Regions from separate parts of the Homo sapiens genome. Here region 1 is linked to region 2. Evidence: fine-mapped expression QTL. A gene starts in region 2. The other region holds a variant in brackets. All regions are shown on one strand. Distances are from middle to middle.

Region 1 (9,977 bases), 40 kb before region 2:
TCTGTCCATGCTGGCCCAGGGTGCCCTCCCGTCCTGTGGCAAATGTGACTCACATAGCCTAGTTCAGCCCTGCACCCCCTCCTCCAAGCAGACCCCCAGCTCAGCCCTGCCCTACCCTGTGCCCCCTCCTCCAGGAAGCCTCCCCAGCCCTGCTCTGCACCCCCTCTTCCAGACAGCCTCCCCAGCCCTGCATCCCCTCCTCCTGGCAGCCTCTCCAGCCCTGCCCCGCACCCCCTCCTCCAGGCAGCCTCCCCAGCATTGCCCCACACCCCCTCCTCCAGGCAGCCTCTCCAGCCCTGCTCTGCACGCCCCCCTCCAGGCAGACCCCCAGCCCAGCCCTGCGCCCCCTCCTCCAGGCAGTCTCCCCAGCCCTGCCCTGCCCTGTGCCCCTCCTCCAGGCAGCCTCCTAAGCCCGCCCCACCTAGTGATGCCAGGCGCCCTGTGTCTGCCCAGGGGGCCGGGTCCTGGAGGTGGGCTTTGGCATGGCCATCGCAGCGTCAAAGGTGCAGGAGGCGCCCATTGATGAGCATTGGATCATCGAGTGCAATGACGGCGTCTTCCAGCGGCTCCGGGACTGGGCCCCACGGCAGACACACAAGGTGCCCCTCTGCCCGCAGGCCCTCCAGGACCCCCACTCCTTGGGGTGAGGGCACTGCTTCCTGGGGGTTGGGGGCCTGGGGCTGTCAGAGGTGGAGGAGGTGGTCTTCTCTCTCGGGAGTCCCCCTGGCCGCTCCCTTTCTGCAGGTGGGGAGATCCTGGGGACCTCTCTACCCTGTCCTCTCTTTTTCTTTTCCCCTCTGCAAGGTCATCCCCTTGAAAGGCCTGTGGGAGGATGTGGCACCCACCCTGCCTGACGGTCACTTTGATGGTGAGGGGTGAGGGGACGTATCACAGGGTGGGCCTCCCCAGCTCCAATGCAGCCCCTCCTTTGCTTGTGGGGGTCCCTCTGATGTGCACTGGGGGGACAGAGCCCAAGTGGGTGTGGGCCTGGCTGTGGGATGGCGGAGCACCGGGGATGGGCATGCTCACGGAGGGGCCCTGGAGGCGATCTCGGGGTTCTCAAGCCTGTGTGGGAGCCCCACCTCTACCCACGGCCCCGTCTCACTGCACCTCCACCCGCTGGGGGATGAGCCGGGTGAGGCTGGGTGAGGCGCTGAGCCCGGCCCTGACCGCGTGGGCTTCTGTTCTCCGTGCAGGGATCCTGTACGACACGTACCCACTCTCGGAGGAGACCTGGCACACACACCAGTTCAACTTCATCAAGGTGGTTCTCTCTGACTTGCTGGGATGCGGGAGGCCCTCGGGGAAGCCCCTCTGCCCACACCCCCACCTCCGTCCTGACCACTGGCCACTCCCCTTCCACAGAACCACGCCTTTCGCCTGCTGAAGCCGGGGGGCGTCCTCACCTACTGCAACCTCACCTCCTGGGGGGAGCTGATGAAGTCCAAGTACTCAGACATCACCATCATGTTTGAGGTGCGCCCACCTGAAGTTCCCCATGGGTCTCCAGGAAGTGACCTTGGATGGGGGTGGGAAGGGGCTGCTGGAGCCACCTTGCTACCTGGGGAGGGTCCCTTCCTGACCCCCTGGGTGGGCTGGACTGTGCTGGTTCATTTAGAAATCAAAGTCCTTTGCCTGGCGCAGTGGCTGCCAGGAGCAGTGGCTCAGGTCTATAATCCCAGCACTGTGGAAGGCCGAGGTGGGCAGATTGCTTGAGCCTAGGAGTTCAAGACCAGCCTGGGCTACAGAGCAAGACCTCATCTTTCCTAAAAAAAAAAAATACAAAAAACTAGCTGGGCGTGGTGGCGTGTGCCTGTACTCCCAGCTACTTGGGAGGCTGAGGTAGGAGGATTGCTTGGGCCCCAGGGGCAGAGGTTGCAGTGAGCCCAGATCGAACCACTGCACTCCAGCCTGGGTAACAGAGCCAGACCCTGTCTCAAGAAAAAAGAAAGAAAGAAAGAAAGAAAGAAAATTTAAAAAAAAAATGGAAATCAGGCTGGGCGTGGTGGCTCACACCTGTGATCCCGGCACTTCGGAAGGCCAAGGCGGGTGGATCACTTGAGCCCAGGAGTTTGAGCCTAGCCTGGCCAACATGGCAGAATCCCATCTCTACTAAAAATACAAAAGTTAGCCAGGCGTGGTGGCGGGCGCCTGTAATTCCAGCTACTCGGGAGGCTGAGGCATGAGAATCACTTGAACATGGGAGGCGGAGGTTGCTGTGAGCCGAGATTGCACCGTTGTACTCCAGCCTGGGCAACAGACCGAGACTCCATCTCAACAAAACAAAAACAAAAAAAATGGAAATCAAAGTCCCTCACCAGCTCAACAACCTCCCATGGCTCCCCAGTGCCCTGTGGTTCAGCCTAAGCCCTGCGTGTTCCCCTCCCTCCAGCTGCCTCCACCTGGCTGTCTTTGCTGGTTCAGCAGTGCTTGTCTCGCTGTTCCCTCTGCCTGGTGGAGGCGGCCTATCTGAGAAGGGCTCTATGTGGTTGCCCTGGGCTGCTGTTGTGAGAGCCGGCTGGGTGCCTGTGGCCCCTGGGGCAGCTTTTCTTCCAAAATGGGAACTAGTGGCCTGTGTTCTTTTTCTGGTGTGATTCTTTGGCTCCACCCGCCACACTGGCAAGGTCTGGAGAACTGTGGAGTAGGTGCCCGGGGGTGGCTCGAGTGTGGGGCTGGGGTTCCAGGACAGCCGGGAAGCTGCTGCCCGCACTGGGGAGCTGGAGATTCCCGTTCACACCTGGGCTTCCAGGGCTGCCCTGCCACGTGCCCACGGGAGCTGCAGCCGCCCACCCGGGCCTTGCCATCTGTAAACACTCTTCAATGAGGGGTGGGCGCCAGGGTGCACGTGACCCCCATGGCCCTCAGAGGTGACCTGGTGCCATCCCCGACCAGGAGACGCAGGTGCCCGCGCTGCTGGAGGCCGGCTTCCGGAGGGAGAACATCCGTACGGAGGTGATGGCGCTGGTCCCACCGGCCGACTGCCGCTACTACGCCTTCCCACAGATGATCACGCCCCTGGTGACCAAAGGCTGAGCCCCCACCC[C/T]GGCCCGGCCACACCCATGCCCTCCTCCGTGCCTTCCTGGCCGGGAGTCCAGGGTGTCGCACCAGCCCTGGGCTGATCCCAGCTGTGTGTCACCAGAAGCTTTCCCGGCTTCTCTGTGAGGGGTCCCACCAGCCCAGGGCTGATCCCAGCTGTGTGTCACCAGCAGCTTTCCCAGCTTCTCTGTGAGGGTCACTGCTGCCCACTGCAGGGTCCCTGAGGTGAAGTAAACGCCGGCGCTGGGCTTGGCCAGTCGGCAGTGAGCGTGCGACTGTTACTTCCAGCGGCTGCTCCCTCACCTCCCGCCCATCCCATGGACACAGGAAAAGTGGGTGACTCCCCTCCAGGTTTCTGAGCGGCCCCAGGATCCGCCCCGCCCCCCCCACTGTCTTGCCCATAGCAGACATCTCCAGCTGATGCCCGATGTCCCTTCCTCAGATGAAAGCCACCTGACCCTTTGCAGTGGGGTCAGGGAAGGGGGTAACTAGGTCAGGGTCTCAGGGGGTGGCAGCACCACGGCCGGGGTGTGGGTGGGACAAGGATCTTTGCCCACCCCAGGCAGGAACCCACTTCTCTGCCCGCCCCAGCACACCCTGAGCTCCCCTCCTCCCGCCCCAGGAGGGGCGTGGCTGCTGACAGCCCCGTTCCCCAAGCCTCCCATTTCCAGATGTGGTTTCCTCTCAGGAGGCATCGCCCCTGCTGGGCCCATTGCAGGGGCAGCCCCACCTGCCCAGCCCCAGGAACATCCCGGGTCCTGCCTGTCTGTGCCCTTGTGCCCAGCTGGTCACCCCATGCCTCCCACTTTGCCCCCTGCATCCACATGTGTGCAGCCCGCCCATCTTCCTGGGGCCGTCCTGCTCGCCCCCTCCACTGACCTCCTTGCCCTGAGAGAAGGCCGGCTCCTGTGCTCTGCACTCTGGCCCAGGGCTGCTGTTCCGCTGGCTGACGCCCTGTCCCCACCCCAGCATGTCCTGCTTCCAGGCTGCTTGACCCGGCTGGGCTGGGTGCCTCTTCCCCACCCCCGCCCCAGTCTCCCGGGCCCCATCCCAGCCTGGCCCGTCATAACTGCCGATCCCCAGAACTGTCCCTGGTGTGCAGCAGGCATGCAGGGTGGGCCTGCAGAGCGAGGTCCCAGCACCGGCGGCATCTGGCGCTGAACACAGGAAGATGGGACGTTTGCTGAATGAATGCACGTCCCTGATGAGGCCTGGACTTCGACGGATGAAGGGGCTGGTGGGGTGGAGTCAGGGTTCCCCGAAAGCCCTGGGTGGAGAGGGTCCCCAAAGTGGGGTCAGACAGCCTGTGAGGCTCACAGTCCTGCCCTGCAGCCCTTTGGTTTGGACCAGGTGCCACCTCCCCATCTCCCTGGCCCCAGCCCTCAGCTAACCAGCCCATGCCACCGCCTGGAAATGGGCCAGAGGGCAGTGGCGACCTGCCCAAGTCCACACGCAGGCCACAGGCCACACTCTGAACCCCGGGGCAGGCTCAGACGGGCTTTGCTCAGCCTGCCTTAGGGCATAGAGGGAGACTGAGTCAGGGCCCTCCCAGGAAGGATGGGTGTGCGGCCTTCCACGCTCGGGACTTTGGGCCACGATGTCCACCCCAGGGTCTTCGCAGAGCAGCGGGAAAGGACCCTGCTGGCAGGCACAGTGCCCGTCTCTGCCCCCGGCTCTGCTCCAACCGCCCCCAGCCCAAGGGCGGCACGCCGCAGGGGGTCTGTGATCCCCCCACGTCCCCGGCTCCTTTCACCCACACACCACACTGGGAGGCGGCAGCCCGAGGGCAGGTTTATTGACAACCTCACGGGACACAAGCAGGCTGGGGACAGGACGGCGACAGGCTCCGGCGGCGGCGGCGGCGGCGCTACCTGCGGTACCAGATCTGCAGCCTCCGCTCCCGCTTGATCTTCCTCTGCAGCTGCAGGATGCCGTAGAGCAGGGCCTCGGCCGTAGGTGGGCAGCCTGCAGGGACCTTGCCTCAGTCTCGCTTCCCGCAGCCGGAGCCCGCGTGACCGCGTGCACAGCGCAGCCGGCTCGGCTTTGGAAGGGTTTCCCGGGCCGGCCTCTGAAGGTGGAGGCTGACAGCCCTGGGTGGGCGCAGTGCCAGGGACTGGGAGCCGGCGCAGGGGAGGTCCCTGCAGGAAGAGTGGGGTCCTCCCCTGGGCAAGGCCCCACTGCCCTCCACCCGTGGCTCATCCCGGGCTGTCACAGGGACCTCTCGGACAAGACGCTGACCTCACTAACCCGGCCCCCGGCCCCAGCCCTCAGGACTCAATGGGGGCCAGCGCTCAGCAGACACACTTAGCAGTGGGGAGCAGGGCCCGGGGCTGCCCTGGACGGAGATGGAGGCAGGGAGGCTGGGCGGAGGGAGGGGAGGTGGCCCAGAGCCCGGGCATCCCACGAGGACCCGATGACCCTCTTTCTGAGCCCCAAGCCAGAGCTCTTTGCTGGGGATCCCCCAGTCCCGGCTGCCACGCAGGTTCAGAACAAAGGGCTTGAGCAAGAGGACGAAGCCCAGGGCCCAACGGGGACAGCAGGAGTGGAAACAGGTGAGAAAGGACAAGGCCACTGCAGGGCCTGGGAAAGGGCGGCCAGGCCCCACCTGGCAGAGCTCTGGCAAGTCCAGGCTGCTCCAAGGGAGGGAGAAGCACAGTCCGCAGGGAGGGAGCAGCACAGTCCGCAGGGAGGGAGGGAGGAGCGAGGTCCCCAGGGAGGGAGGAGCGCGGTCCGCTGGGAGGGAGGGGCGCGGTCCCCAGGGAGGGCCGAGCGCGGTCCGCAGGGAGGGAGGAGCGCGGTCCCCAGGGAGGGAGGAGCGCGGTCCGCAGGGAGGGAGGGAGGAGCACGGTCCCCAAGGAGGGAGGAGCGCAGTCCCCAGACAGGGAGCACAGTCCGCAGGGAGGGAGGAGCGCGGTCCCCAGGGAGGGAGGAGCTCAGTCTGCAAGGAGGGAGGAGTACAGTCCACACTCGCAACTTGCCCCATTGGTCTGCACTGCAGGGGAAGACGCCAGGGGCATGGGCAGAGCTCCTGACCCCAGGATGGACCTCTCTGTGCTGTCAAGTCACAGGGAGGCCCAGGCTGCCCTCTCCACTGCCCCCGGGGTGACCTGAACCGTGCAGAACGCTGAACAAATCAACGCCCTTTCCAGGGAAGCGGAATCCAAAGTCAGAGCCTGTTCCTCCACTTTTGAGAGGCACCAGGATGTGCCTCTCGCTTGCCCAAACCCCCAGACTCGGGACTCAGGGCTGGGCTCTCTGCGCATGAGCTAATGCCGCACGCAGCACAGGGTGGCCAAGAACAGGACTCTGTCCCCTGTCCCACATGAGCGCCACCTCCAAGCCTGCCTACCGTGGACCACTGTCAAGGTGAACGCCCGGGGGGATGGCCCTCGTGGGACCACGTGAGGTGCAAGAGTCCCACGGGATCACCAGATATAAAGAATGTTCCCGGTGCGATGTGAATTTCAGGTATGCAGCCAATGCTCTTTTTAGTGTCAGTATAGCCCAAATATTGTTGGGATATACTCGTACTAAACAATTACTACTAACAGTTTTCCTGATGGTCAAATTCACCCTAACCTCACAGTCAAACTAAGCCTCCCACGTTTTCATTTGCCAAATCCGGCCACCCCGGGTCCCAGGGAGTCCTGCGTGCCCTTCTGTAAGGCTGAGGGCGCGGGACAGTGTCCTTGGCCCCCAGGAACCTTCTCGCTTGGTATTTCTAACTGCAGGTCTTTGGTTTGTGCCAGGTAGGACCATATGAAACTGCTGTAAACCAGGCGTGTGTCAGGAATTCCACTCAGCTTCCCCTGCTCCCTCTGATCCCTCTGATGCCTGAATACATCGCCGACTTCTCACAGGGGACAGGCTCCACTAAGAGGCAGCGCTCCGAGTCGGCCCATCCATAGGATGGGGGAGCCCGCCGTCTGCTGGGGGTGTGGGACTCCCTCACAGGGGCCGCCGGGCTCCGTGTGGCGCTGGCCCTGTCTCCAGCTCCCTCGTGGGCGGTGCGGTCCCGGCCCTACCTGGGATGTAGATGTCCACGGGCACGATGCGGTCGCAGCCCCTCACCACCGAGTAGGAATAGTGGTAGTAGCCTCCTCCGTTGGCGCAGCTGTTGGGGAGGCACCGTGAGGGGAGTGTGCCGAAGACCCGCCTGCCCACCCTCCCTCCACGAGGCCTCGCCCCATCCCCACCCGCCTTCAACTGCAGGCCAGGCACCTACGAGGCTGGAACTTGTCACGGAGAAGCAATGAGCAAACACGCACAGGCTCCCAGAGCCTCTGTGGGACCAGTGGGGCGCAAGCTCACACGTGGCTGATAACTCGGGGAAAAGTGCTCCCCTCCCGAGGGGGCTCCTGACCACCGATTCCCGGGGCTGGGATGTGTCAGATCACATGTGTCAACAAAAAGCCACTTCAGACAGCCACAGTGCCAACACCCAGCCCCTGTCTATGGGGCGGCTGAGCCTCACCCTCGCCTGATTCCGGCTCTGTCAGTGAGGCGCTGGGGTCCACCCGGGGCAGGGAGCTGGAAACCCCAGGAGACCACACAGACTCCACTCCCAGCACTGCTTCCCACAGCCGTAAAAATGGACATACCCTGAATGCCCAGCAGTGGGAGACGGTTATGAAAACTCTGGAATATTCTAATTAACTGTTTAGAATTAGATTAGTAATATGTCCACACAGTGGGATATTATTCAGCCAAGAAAAGGCACGAGGCTCGGACACAGGCCACAGCACGGATGCACCTTGAGGACGTCGCGCTCAGTGAGAGACGCCGGACACAGAAGGCCATGCGGCGTGTGATCCTGTTTCTGTGAAATGTCCAGGACGGGCCCATCCACAGAGACAGGGAGGGGAGGTGTGGGCACCGGGGCTCGGAAGGGGATGCAGAGTGACTGCTGATGGGGACAGCATTTCATTTGGGGGTGATGAGAATGTTCTGGAATTAGAGGTGGTGGCCTAAAAACCACTGAACTGCTCGCTTTAAAAGGGTAAACTTATCAAGACCTGATCTCTACAGAAATTTTAAAAAGTAGGCACAGTGGAGTACATCTGTAATCCCAGCACTCTGAGAGGCTAAGGTTGGGGGACCGCTTGAGCCCAGGAGGTCAAGGCTGCAGTGAGCTATGACTGCACCACTGCACTCCAGCCTGGGCAACTCAGTGAGACTCTGTCTCTAAAAAATAAAAATAATAAATATTGGCCAGGCATGGTGGCTCATGCCTGTAATCCCAGAACTTTGGGAGGCTGAGGTGGGTGGATCACGAGATCAGGAGATCGAGACCATCCTAGCCAACATGGTGAAACCTCTTCTTTACTAAAAATACAAAAATTGGCCAGGTGTGGTGGCAGGTGCCTGTAATCCCAGCTACTCGGGAGGCTGAGGCAGGAGAATCGCTTGAACCTGGGAGGCGGAGGTTGTAGTGGGCTGAGATCGTGCCACTGCACTCCAGCCTGGGCGACAGAGCTAGACTCCATCTTTAAGTAAATAAATAAATATTTTAAAATGTTAAGAGACTAAATACCTTTCAATGTTACGGGGAAATGACTAAAAAATGAGGGCAAGGCCAGGCGTGGTGGCTTATGCCTATAATCCCAGCACTTTGGGAGGCCGAGGCAGGCGGATCACCTGAGGGAGTTCAAGACCAGCCTGGCCAACATGGTAAAACCCCGTCTCTACTAAAAATACAAAAATTAGCTGGGTGTGGTGGTGCATGCCTGTAATCCCAGCTACTTGGGAGGCTGAGGCAGGAAAATTGCTTGAACCTGGGAGGCGGAGGTTGCAGTGAGCCGAGATGGTTCCACCGCACTCCAGCCTGGGTTGACAGAGCAAGACTCTGTCTCAAAAAAAAAAAAAAAAAGAAAAAAAACTAATGGCAAGTGAGAAGGCTGAGATTATAAAACTATCTACAGCACCTGTCATCACTTATGTGTGAGTAAAGCAGAGAACTGGGCGGAATGTGGGGTCTGCTGCGTGGGGGTGGATGGGAGGAATCGTTCTGGGGAGAGGCCCACCAGCGCATCTGCCTAGGGTGGAGGCACCGAGACGGCTGAAGGGCAGCGCCGGGACCACGTGGGATTTCACTGAATGTAGATGACACTTTTGATAAGCGCCATCAGGGCACGGCCAGGCCAGCACTCACGCTACGTCTGTCCCTGGAGACCCCCCGCCCTGCACTCACCTCCCCATGGAGACCACGTAGCGCGGCTCCGGCATCTGGTCGTAGACCTGGAAGAGAGGCGGGGTCCGTGCGCAGCTCACTCTGGGGGCGGCTGGGCGGCTGGGACGAGGCCTACCTTGCGAAGCGCTGGGGCCATCTTGTTGGTGAGTGTGCCGGCCACGATCATGACGTCGGACTGGCGCGGGCTGGCGCGGAAGACCACGCCAAAGCGGTCCATGTCGTAGCGGGGTGCTGCCATGTGCATCATCTCCACGGCGCAGCAGGCCAGGCCGAAGGTCATGGGCCACAGAGAACTCTGCGGAGGCCGGGCTCGGGTCAGACGCCACCCCCGGAGCCCCGCGTGGCCCAGCGTGAGACTCCACGTGGAGCACCCAGAACCCCCGACTCATGTCCCGGGGCGGCAGCCGGCAGAGGTGAGAGGCACAGCGGCTCCTGCAGGTGGCCTCCGGGCCCCAAGAGTTGTAAAGCGCGCCCCACCAGCCACATTCAAATACATAAAATAGAGAGAAACGGGTGAGATCTGTCCTCATCACATAGTTCCTCGAACCCAGTGTATCCTAAGTCCCACCATTTCAACAGGGGGCTCCAGCCACTCTCTGAGCGCGTGGGCTACAGGCGAGTAGTAGCGCAGGTCTAACCGGGAACTCTCTGCGTTAACTAGATCTGGGTCCACATACCAAGTGCGACGCCTCCAGGAAGCCCTCTCAGATCTCCTTGGCCACTCCCTCCCCTCTCCTCCATCCCTGTGGCT
Region 2 (11,275 bases):
GGGTGCAGCCGCAGCTGCGGCCTCAGCACAGCCACAATGCTCCCAGCCGCGCCGCAGACAATCGTGGCCCGCCGCCCCTCTACGGGCTCCCCACTCACTCAACTCCCTTCCCTTCTAAACAAAAATAAGAAGACAAATATTTAGAAGTTGAAGCAATTATAGCCCAGTGGGGAGACAGACAAAAAGGAATGAGGAAGTCTCTGCTCTAAGTCTATTTTGGCAACGATCTCATTAAAATCTGGTCAAAAACACCCACGTGCCTGGCTCCCAGTCTGGCTGCGGAGGAGCAGGACTCCACCCTCTGCGCTCTCCTCCTCCACGAGAAACTTTTACCTTTCTCCAGCTTCTGGGAATCCGGGCAAGGAAGACATCTGGTTGCATCCGCAGAGGCGTGGGAGGGAGGCGGGCCCAGCCTGGCGGTGCTGCGCGGGGTCACAGACTCTCTGGGCCCTGGCCCCGGCCCGGGGGATGGTGCGGCCCCTGCTGCCATGGGCTCCAGCTGCACGGCAGGCGGCCTTTGGCTGCCATCCAGGCGCGGCCTCTTTTTCGCAGGGCATTCTCCAGGCTCTGAGCAGGCCGAGGGCTCAGGGGCTGGGGGCGCAGTGAGGCTGCCCAACGGCAGACCGGGGTCGTGTCCCTCAGCGTTGGCACAGGGATCGTCCTCCCTGACCCCGGAGGGCAAGGACGGGGCTGCCCAGCTGCCTCCTTTGCTCCCCATGTCTCTCTCCGTGTCGTCCTCTGAAAGGGAAGATCCATTCAGGCACAAGCTAGCCTTCTGCGCTGAGTTTCCTCCCCTCTTACTTGCAAGAGTCCAATTTTTGTGGTGGATTCTGGACCCACTCTCATCTTGGGCACCACCTCCAGCTGGGAGGACCAACGGGCCTCTTGGGTTTTCACTTTTCCTGAGCCCCTTCTTGTGGTCCACTTTGCACTCGGGGTCCTTTTCACAAGTGAACGAACTTGACAGGCTTTGTTGCACACATGGCCTCCTCCTGTGAGGTCTGGAACTGCCCAACACGTCTCCGCGGGGAAGAGATGAGGAGTTCGAATCACAGGGCGAGGAGACATGCTCCATGGGCTTCCCTCGCAGAGACCGGTCAGCTCTACCTGTCCCTGCAGAGCTTTCTTGACTCCAAATCGAGCCCTCGCTCAGAACGTCCAGAGCCACGCGAAGCGACCGTCTGTAGGCCAGTTCTTCCAGGGGTGCCGCAGGAACCTCATTCTGTGAGGCTGCAAGGACCGAACATACACAATGCCGGTTACGTTCACTGCACAGGCACTGCGGTCACGGCATCGCTTTAGAAGCTCGCTTGTCTCATTCTGACGGCTAGTTTCATACCTAAATCACTGAAGGGGAGGACTAACATTTCTCACCTACATTTTCCCAAAAAGGAGACGAGGCTACAGAACGACAGCTATTCATTCCGGGATTCGAGGCTTCATTTTTTTAAAAACCAAATTTATTGACCTTAACCTGATTGGCTAAAAAGATAAATTCCTCCAAGTTACAAAACAATACCGTGAGCAAAATGTATTCAAATGTTTTGCAAATCCTCTCTCAGCCTTACAATTTCAAATTCAATCAGGGTCAATAAAAACCAATGCCAACTAAATAAAGAACTCTGCTGGCAACGTATTCTTGGTTGGTGCAGGGGTTGGTGGTAGCAAGGAAAAGGAGATTTAAAAGACTCATTGTGGGCTGGTAAATTTTCAATACTTCTTTGCAAGGGCATTTCAAAGCCAGCAAAGAGCATCGTGGGCCTCTGGTTTCCAGCCCAACCTCCCTGCTGCAGCACTTTTATTTATTCATTCCGACATATAGATACGGCGCTATTTATTTGAACAAGATGATGGATGTAATATCACAACTCAGCGGGCATAATGCCTCAATCAGAACAGTATTCTCCCCTTTGAATATTAAAGGCGCCCACAAACAACCAGCCCCCCAACACAATCTGCGCCAACAAGGACGACGCCATCCAAGATGATGGTCAGCCCGGCCTAAGTTATGCAGAGATGGATCCTGCTTTAAACAAGAGCTGTTTTTCGGAAGACACAGGAAAATAGACCTGATTTTATAAACATCATTGGAAGGAATTCCGGTCCATCTTTTCACAAGAGAAACAATTATTTGCAAATGGGATAAACAGTTCCACTTTGAGAAGGAAGGCTGGCAGGTTTGGGTTTGCACAACTGTGGCTAGGGGGCAGGCAGTCACCAGTGCTCCTCACTTGTCATGTATGTGCATGACCAGTCCCCGGCTGGACTCAGGCAAAGCTTTTCTCACCCACAGTGTGCAAAGGAGGTGGGTGCTAAACTGAAGGCCTGGGAGAAAGCGCACCCGGATGGATGGGAAGCCGAGAGCTCCACTTCCGACCTGCCTCGTGCCCCCCATGACAGTGCCTCAAACAATGGGTGCCACCAACCCCAGTGCCAGGCCACCCGTTCTCTCCCTTGGGCTCTGCTCTGGAATTTTAAACACACAACCAACTGCTTCTCAAACCTTGGGCTGAGACCAGACTGGCCAGGCAGCGACAGTACCACAGCAAATCTTACTATAGGAAGAGGAAAGGAAAAAGGAGGACCTCCCCCCTTATGGCAGCAAAGTCCTTCCTCGTCTTGTGTACTGGAGGCCACGGGGGTACGAGATGACCTTGATGCTCACCACTGACCATTCTGGGCGTCAAGAATAGGAGTGGTTCTAGGGGCAAATTCTGGAAAGGTTTAAGAAAGCGGATCCATTTTTCCTTCTCCTTCAGCTCAGGGGATTCGCGTTCCCTTGTATGAAGAAAAACATGGTGAACAGGGTGAATTTTTACCCAGAAAGCTGAGCCTTCACATTCTCCCAAATGACCTCTTATTTTATGAAAACCTAGTGGCCACTTAAAAATACGCTCTTACCTAACGAGGAAGCAATGGCTTCAATTTGAGACTTCTCTAGGATCTCAACTTCAGTGCTTTTCACCTTAATTCTGCAGAGACAAAATCGACGTTACACACCACCAGCCAACGCCGCCAAGACATTTTCAAACATGTTTTCCTTTAGATAACAAAAGAATTATTTTCATTTTCCTCCTCAACCTTCCACTTAAACCAAAAGTCACAGCCAACTAGGAATTCATCTGCCTGAGGTTACAGGCAGCAAGAACCCTGGTGAATGGTTTTTTTTTTTTTTTCCTTTTAAGACAGAAAAGGTTGGCTGGATTTAAAAGCAAAAATGAATTCAAATTGTGACTTTTATGAAGCAAATCCTACTTTCAACTGCACAAATCACTCCTTTGTTAGATTTTCAGAGTAGATGGTAATGTCACTAAAAGCTGTTTACAGCCCAGCAGGTGTGTTTTGGTTTAAAAGGATGTGCTTTCCTTTTAAACTCGAGTATTCAATTACCTTCCCAGCCGCAGGGAAAGTGTGAGCTAGGGACCAAGCGAGCTTCAGAGGCAGCTCTGAAGATGCAGGCAGGAGGGAGTGGGGCAGGGGGAGCTCCACAAGGAAGAGCAACAGGGGAGCCAATGCCTTGGACTACGCGGGATCAGTCTCCTTGCTCTCTTCAGAACTGGGAATTCTCACGACAGATGCACCCTCGCCAATCACGCAGGACTGACCGGGGCGTCGGAATCGCCGTCATTCTAGATGATCTACACCTTCCCGGTGCCAGACGCGCCCTCGCCACAATCACGCAGGACTGACTGGGGCGTCGGAATTGCTGTCATTCTAGACAATCTACACCTTTCCCAGTGCCAGACACTCACGGAGCAGAACAATGTGCCGCCTGGTCATCAGTTATTTGCCTTTTGAACGTTAAACGCTGGTTTAGAGTGACAGGCTCAAAAACCAAATATTTCAAAATTGATGGGCCTGTCACAGACGTTTCTGAAAAAAGACACACAGATCTCTGGGAAGGAAACATCCCTATTTTCCTGGCATGGCACTGATTAAGAAACAGTCAAAAAAAAAAAAAAAAAAGGAAATATCCCTATTTTAACCACAAATAGGGTCTACCCTGAGTATAATTTACATGTATTCAGTGTTTGTACCAATCTCTCCATAGATCTCACAGAATGCCTCGTTTGGATCTTCAGCTTCCAAACTGACATAAAATCAAACTAGTTGCTTTCTCATGAGGTTATTATGAGCATTAATGAATTACACAAATGGTGAATAAGCCCATTAAGAGTGGGCTGGGCTTCAACTGTTTTGGGGGAGTAGGGGATTGAAGTATCAGAAATCTACACGGGAAAAAACAGTATTAAAACAACACAACACTTAACTTTTCCTCTAGAGAGAGGATTTGCACAGCTAGAAAATATTCCTTTCTTCTCTTATTTTTTGTTGAAGTCGCGGTTCGGGCCAAAACCTACATTTAAAACAAAAGAAAATCCTTGTTATTACAACAGCTGACAGTGAGAAACAGTGGCAAACTTTAGCACAAATGCAGCAGGTAATCCTGAAGGCCTATAACCATGGGATTTCAGATATTTGGTCCAATCCCCATTGTTTCACAGATGGGGAAACTGAGGCATGAGAGGCCAGTGGCAGACAAAGACAAGGACCTGGGCTTTTGCATTGCAGCTGAGCACTGTCTACTGAATTGCTGGAAAGCATTCCCTGAACACGACCATAATTTACTATCACAGGGCTGCTTGCCAGATCTTTCCTTGAGTTACAGCCTTACATGCCTTTTTACAGCTGATTCTTTTTTTTTTTTTAGTGTGAAAAAAAAAAGACATTTCTGGAAGTGTAACCTTGGAAGCACTAGACCAAAACCCCATTAAATGGGGAACGAGAATCAGTGCCAACCGTGTTCTGGCTCAATTATTTCACTGAAGCAAATCCTAGGTATCTCCTGATCAAGATTTTACTTGTCACCCGAAAGTCATTTCTAAGTCCTGAAGTTACAGAATAATGGCTGTCACCTTCGCAGGCCATAATCGCTTTTCCCATCGGCAGAGGACATACTTGGCATCCGCCATCATTTACACTCATGTGGCAAGTGGCAATGATTTGGCACAACGTACTCCCAGGTCTCACGCCAATGTGTCCTGGAACGAAATTTGCACGGTGGTTTATACAACTGTTTGCTGGCGATGTTAACGCAGACACAGCCCTCAGGGGCAAAGGTTAGCTCGACTTAGCCTCAAGTAGATGGTTTAATTCCACAATCTTGCATTGAGATGCTCAATGCCAAAAAGCAGACTGACAAACAGAAACGACGGGGCTCGGTATCCAGGGAGGCGCCTGCATTTTTTCATAAATAAAATACAGCACAGTCCCTCCCAAAGGTTCTATCTAGATCAGTTTTAAAAGGCTCCTGAATAAATCATCTCCGTGCGGAAGACCTGCCTCCGACCTCGGCAGGAGAGGCATTTTACACAATCAAAGCTCACAACCCTCCCCAATTTGGGGAGTTAACAGTTGACCACAGCACACACACAAAAATAAGAGCGGAAAAACGACTGCTCTTTTGGCTGCCATGTCCCTGAAAGAACGGGGACAGCTGCAGACCGTTCACAGCATCAATGGGAAGGACTGGCTTGGCTGTTGACAGAAATGAAAAGGAGGTTTGGGGGTGGGGGTGGAATTTAGCAACAACGGAGGGGGGCGTCCCCGCAGCAGGGAAGAGGAGGTTCCCAGCAGAGGTAGGGGTGGCGTTTCCAGCAAGAGAGGGGATCACAGCAGCAGCAGAAGTAGGGGTCCAGGCAGCAGGGACAAGATTTCATGGCGGAGGAAGGGTTGCGGCTTGCAGGAACGGGGGATTCAGGCAACAGAGAAGGGGGTCACAGCAGAAGCGGGGGGGCTCAGGGAGCAAGAACGAGGGCTCACGGAGGAGGTGGAGCGGAGGGTCCAGGTGGCAGGGATGGGGGATTTCACGGTTGGGGGTGGGGAATCCAGGGAAGCAGATGGGGGTCCAGGCAAGAGATGGGGTTCACGGCAGACGTGAGGGGGATCCAGGGAAGGAGATAGGGGTCCAGGCAGCAAGGATGGGGGAGCGGGTCCAAGCAAGAGATGGGGTCCGGGCGGCAGGGACGGGAAAAGGAGTCCAGGCAAAGTGAGGGGCCCACGGCGCCAGGGGCGGAAAAGGGGGTCCGGGCAGAGTGGGGGACCCACGGCGGTAGGGACCGGGCGCTCCCGGAGGAGTCTCTAGGCCGGGGCCCCCCCTCCCCCCAGGCCCGGCCTCCTCGCCTCAGCCCCGCCCGGCGGAACCGAGGGGACGCATCCCGCGGGCTCACCGGGCCCCCGGCTTTCCCCAGCGCGGCGCCCCAAGCCCGGGCAAGGAGGCCGCAGCGGCCGCAACAGCGGAGGACCCGCCCGCCAACCGCTGCCGTCCGCGCCGCCCGCGCTCACCGCCTCCGCCACCGCCGCCGCCGCCGCCGCCGCCGCTCCCCGCGGGGCCGGGGGCGGGGCTTGCCTCGCGGCGGCGCCAAGCTCCGCCCCCTTCCGCCCGCTGCCCAATGGGACGCGCGCGCTCCCAAGGAGCGCCGGCCTCGCCCTCTCCGGCGTCCACGGCCGCGCGCCGGCCCCGCCCCTTCCGCCGCGCGTCTACCCCTTTTTCCCGGGAGTGCTGCCTGAGGAGACCGGTTGGCGGGGCATGTGTGGCCGCTCCCGGGCGCCGCCCTCCCGCGCTCCCGGCCCTTTGTCCTGCAGTCAGACCCCGGACACCGCCCTCGCGGGTCTCGGTGGGAAAACAGGCTCCCCCGCCCGCGGCGATCCCTGAGAGAACCTTCCAGAACTTTCGAGAATCTTCCAGGTCCTACGGCACCTCCCAGCCCGGGAGCTGCGCGCCACGGACCCAATTCCAGCAGATCCCAACCGATCCCAAAGCCAGGCATCCCCGCAAAGGCGTCATAAGCTTCTGAACTAGAGCAGGACCCACCTTGGGAGGGTCCCAAGACCCCGGGGGGCACCGGAAACAGCCGCGGGTGGCGGGAGCCCCGGAGCGGTCGCTCCATCAGTGTCAGGCCTTTCCCTGAGCGGTTTTTGATTTTTTTTCAGACGGAGTCTCGCTCTGTCACCCAGGCTGGAGTGCAGTGGCGCGAGCTCAGCTCACTGCAGCCTCCTCCTGCTGGGATTACAGGTGCGCGCCACCCCACCCGGCTAATTTTTGTATTTTTAGTAGAGAATACTAAATGTTGATCAGGCTGCTCTCAAGCTCCTGACCTCAGGTGATCGGCCTGCCTCGGCCTCCCAAAGTATTGGGATTACAGGCCTGAGCCACCTCGCCAGCCCCCACAGTTCTTTAAAAGCAAAGGAGGCCGAATTGGCAGATCCTTTAAGCCCAAGGATTGGAGACCAGCCTGGGCAACATGGCGAGACCCCATCTCTATAAAAAAGATACAGGCTCACTCCTGTAATCCCAGCAGGAGGCCGAGGCGGGCAGATCACATGAGGTCAGGAGATCGAGACCAGCATTGCCAACATGGTGAAACCCCGTCTTTACTACAAATAGAAAAATTAGCCGGGCGTGGTGGCGATGCCTGTAATCCCAACTATTCAGGAGGCTGAGGCAGGAGAATCGCTTGAACCCGGGAGGCGGAACTTGCAGTAAGGGGAGATCGCGCCACTGCACTCCAGCCTGGGCAACAGAGTGGGACTTCGTCTCAAAAAAGGAAAAAATTAAAAGACTTACAGCAGCATTCGTCACGCACTGGCCCCGACTCTTCAAGGGGAAGGGGCGACAGCAAAGCCGGCTCTAACTTCTTTTTCCTTCTCACATTTGCGGGAATAGAAGGTTTGTGTCTTCGGTCGATCCCAGCAACCTCAGCGACTGATTTTTTTTCCTTTATCAAGTTGAGAATGTTCACCTTTCACTTGTTTTTTATTTTTATTTACATTTTTGAGTCGAAGTTTGGCTCTGTGGCCCAGGCTGGAGTGCAGCGGCCCAGTCATAGCTCACTGCAGCCTCAACCTCCCAGGCTCAAATGATCCTTCCACCTTAGCCTCCGGAGTAGCTGGGACCACAGTGCGCACCACCATGGCTGGCTAAGATTTTTATTTTTTGTAGAGAGAGGGTCTTGCTATGCTGGCCAGGCTGGTTTCGACCTTTTGGGCTCAAGTGATCCTCCCACCTCGGCTCCCCAAAGTGCTGGGATCACAGGTAGGATCCACCTTGCTCAGCCGTCTCAGTTTGTCTATAAAATGGGGGTGGTGGTCTGTGGGTGGTTGGCAAGAACTATGTCTCTGATATCCTCTCACGTTAAATCTGAGCTGGCGGTGGCTCAGGCCTGTAATCCCAGCACTTTGGGAGGTCAAGGCAGACATATCGCCTGAGGTCAGGAGTTCGAGACCAGCCTGGCCAATATAGAGAAACCCCCATCGCTACTAAAAATACAAAAATTGGCTGAGCGTGGTAGTGTGCACCTGTAATCCCAGCTATTTGGGAGGCTGAGGCAAGAAAATCTCTTGAACCCAGGAGGCGGAGGTTGCAGTGAGCTGAGATCGCGTCAGTGTACTCCAATGTGGGTGACAGAGCAAGACTGACTCTGTCTCAAAAAGAAAAAAGAAAAAATCCTGGGCTGGCGTGTGACCTGCTTCAGCCCAGGGAATACAGCAGAAGGGGTGCTGTGCCAGATCCAAGCCTCTGCCTCAGGAGGAGTGGGGCCCAGTGCGGTGGCTCCCGCCTGTGCTTTGGGAGGTGCTTTGGGAGGCTGAGATGGGAGGATCACATGAGCCCAGGAGTTGGAGACAGGCCTGGGCAACATAGTGAGACCCTGCCTGTACAAAAACAAAAAAGAATTAGCCAGGCATGGTGATGCACACCTGTAGTCCCAGCTACCCAGGAGGCTGAGGCAGGAGGATTGCGTGAGTCTGGGAGGTCGAGGCTGCAGTGAACCGTGATTGCACCACTGCACTCCACATGACAAAGCAAGACCCTGTCTCAAAAACAAAACAAAACAAAACACAGCGTGGCAACAGCTCACGCCTGTAATCCCAACACTTTGGGAGGCCAAGATGGGAGGATTCCTTGAGCCCAGGAGTTCAAAGCTCCTATGAGCTCAAATGAGGTATATTTTTTTAATTTGTTTTAGAGACAGAGTCTTGCTCTTGTTGCCCAGGCTGGAGTGCACTGGTGCAATCTCGGCTCGCTGCAACCTATACCTCCCAGGTTCAAGCCATTCTCCTGCCTCAGCCTCCCCAGTAGCTGGGATTACAGGCACACGCCACCACACCCGCCTACTTTTTGTATTTTTAGTAGAGACGGTTTCACCATGTTGGCCAGGCTGGTCTCGAACTCCTGACCTCATAATCCACCCACCTCGACCTCCCAAAAACGCTAGGATGACAGGCGTGAGCCACCGTGCCTGGCCTCTGGCTCTGGTATTAAATAAATTAATGCTTTTAAAGTACTTGTGCCAGTGGTGAAATGTTAGGTCTTATTTTATTAAATGTCTTCTCCATTCGTCTGTGAGTTCCCTGAGTCCTGTTTTCTTCACCATTGTAAGCCCAGTCCGTGTCACCGAGCGCTCACTCAAATTTTGTTTAAAGAATGAATTTCTCTCCTAAACCATAGAGATTCACAGTTGCAATAAAGCGGCTGCTTCTAAGGCAGCACAAAGGCCTGGCAGGTCGATGCAAGAACGTCCTTTCACAGGCTTCTTCCGGCTCCACGTCAGTTATGGCTTTAATTAAAACGTTTCCCCTTCTGCGGGAAATGTATCATACACAATTCCCTCTGCTACTCAAGGCGTTGTAAGACAACGGTCGCTATCGTATTTTTATTAACCAGACCGCTATTGTGAGACATTTCAGCGATTCCTGATTTTTCCATGATTTAAATAAGGCCGCAGAAAGCAACTCTCCTATGTAAATCTTGGTGCACCTCTGATTATATCCTTATGATAAATCCCTGGAGGCGGAAATTGCTGGGTCTGAGGGTCTGGACATCCTCAAGGCGTTTGACAGATGACGTCAAGTTGCTTTTCAGAAAGGTACCAATTCACATTGGCGGCAGCCCCGCATTACCACGGCCCATCTAACACCCTGCACGAGGGCCGGGCGTGATTATTTCTCTCATCTTTGTTAATCTGATGATGGGTGAAAAATGTATTAAGTTTGATACTGAACCATGAACTAAATCAAAGATTAAAACACACAGACACACACCTAGTGTTCCAGCCTGAACCAGAACTGAATCTATATTTTCTAAAGTGATTGAACTGTAACATCAAAATAGCCTCTGAACTGAAACTCAATCAGTGTTCCAACCCATTCAAGTCCCTAATTAGGCCATAAGGGGACCACACTGGAAACCTTGACCAGACCTTGACCTTGTTAACACGGAGCTACGACTGCCAGCTTTGACGGGGCCCCACTGCCAAGGAGCTTTACAGATGTCCAATTACCAGCCCCCTTCACACAAGCCAGGTTTTTACATAGGAAATTCAGAACACAAGAGAGAGGGCTGTCACTGGTGTTTCTGGAGACCCAGGGGCTCCACGGAAGTCAGGATTGTCTTGGGGAGACCAGGATGACTTGAGCCCAGAAGGTCGAGGCTGCAGTGAGCCGATATCGCTCCACTGCACTCAGGCATGGGCTATACAGGGAGACCCTGTTGCTACAAAAAAAAAAAAAAAAAAAAGGCCAGCCGGGTGCGGTGGCTCACGCCTGTAATTCCAGCACTTTGGGAGGCCAAGGTGGGCGGATCACGAGGTCAGGAGTTCAAGACCAGCCTGGCCAACATGGTGAAACCTCGTCTCTACTAAAAATACAAAAATTAGCCAGGCGTGGTGGCAGGTGCCTGTAATCCTAGCTGCTTGGGAGGCTGAGGCAGGAGAATTGTTTGAATCCAGGAGGCAGAGATTGCAGCGAGCCGAGATGGTGCCACTACACTCCAGCCTGGGCAGCAGAATGAGACCTCAACTCAAAAAAAAAAAAAAGAAAAAAGAAAAGTGGCTGGGCACAGTGGCTCACATCTGTAATCCCAGCACTTTGGGAGGCTGAGGCGGTGGATCACCTGAGGTCAGGAGTTTGAGACCAGCCTGACTAACATGGTGAAACCCCCGTTTCTACTAAAAATACAAAAAAATTAGCCAGGCATGGTGGCAGGCGCTGGTAGTCCCAGCTACTGGGGAGGCTGAGGCAGGAGAATGGCGTGAACCTGGGAGGCAGAGGTTGCGGTGAGCCAAGATCACGCCACTGCACTCCAGCCTGGGCAACAGACTGAGACTCTGTCTCAAAAAAAAAAAAAAAGAAAAGAAAAAGAAATTTTCTGTAGAGACACAGTCTTGCTCTGTTGCCCAGGCTGGTCTCGAGCTTCTGACCTCAAGCGATCCTCCAC

The links.
Region 1: its variant is fine-mapped to the expression of PWWP3A in whole blood (TOPMed, PIP above 0.99).

What each region holds. Positions count from the first base shown.
Region 1 is chr19:1,390,415-1,400,391 of GRCh38, reverse strand. It overlaps NDUFS7 (NADH:ubiquinone oxidoreductase core subunit S7), which reads right to left. Exons shown (of 8, transcript NM_024407.5): 5 at 9,342-9,521; 6 at 9,227-9,273; 7 at 7,062-7,150; 8 at 4,808-5,001. The coding sequence ends at 4,904. GAMT (guanidinoacetate N-methyltransferase) reads left to right here. Exons shown (of 6, transcript NM_000156.6): 2 at 454-599; 3 at 805-868; 4 at 1,197-1,264; 5 at 1,366-1,476; 6 at 2,893-3,366. The coding sequence ends at 3,033. Among named protein-coding and RNA genes, the nearest start is that of GAMT, 6.1 kb to the left of the region's middle. RefSeq lists enhancers at 3,741-3,790, 3,891-3,940. The variant C/T (reference allele first, on the strand shown) is at 3,044.
Region 2 is chr19:1,350,091-1,361,365 of GRCh38, reverse strand. PWWP3A (PWWP domain containing 3A, DNA repair factor) reads right to left here and starts at 6,407. Exons shown (of 14, transcript NM_001369789.1): 1 at 6,231-6,407; 2 at 4,917-5,042; 3 at 4,272-4,357; 4 at 2,902-2,972; 5 at 334-1,230. The coding sequence starts at 4,973. RefSeq lists silencers at 6,199-6,268, 6,329-6,618, 6,503-6,663, 6,649-6,748 and an enhancer at 5,721-6,606.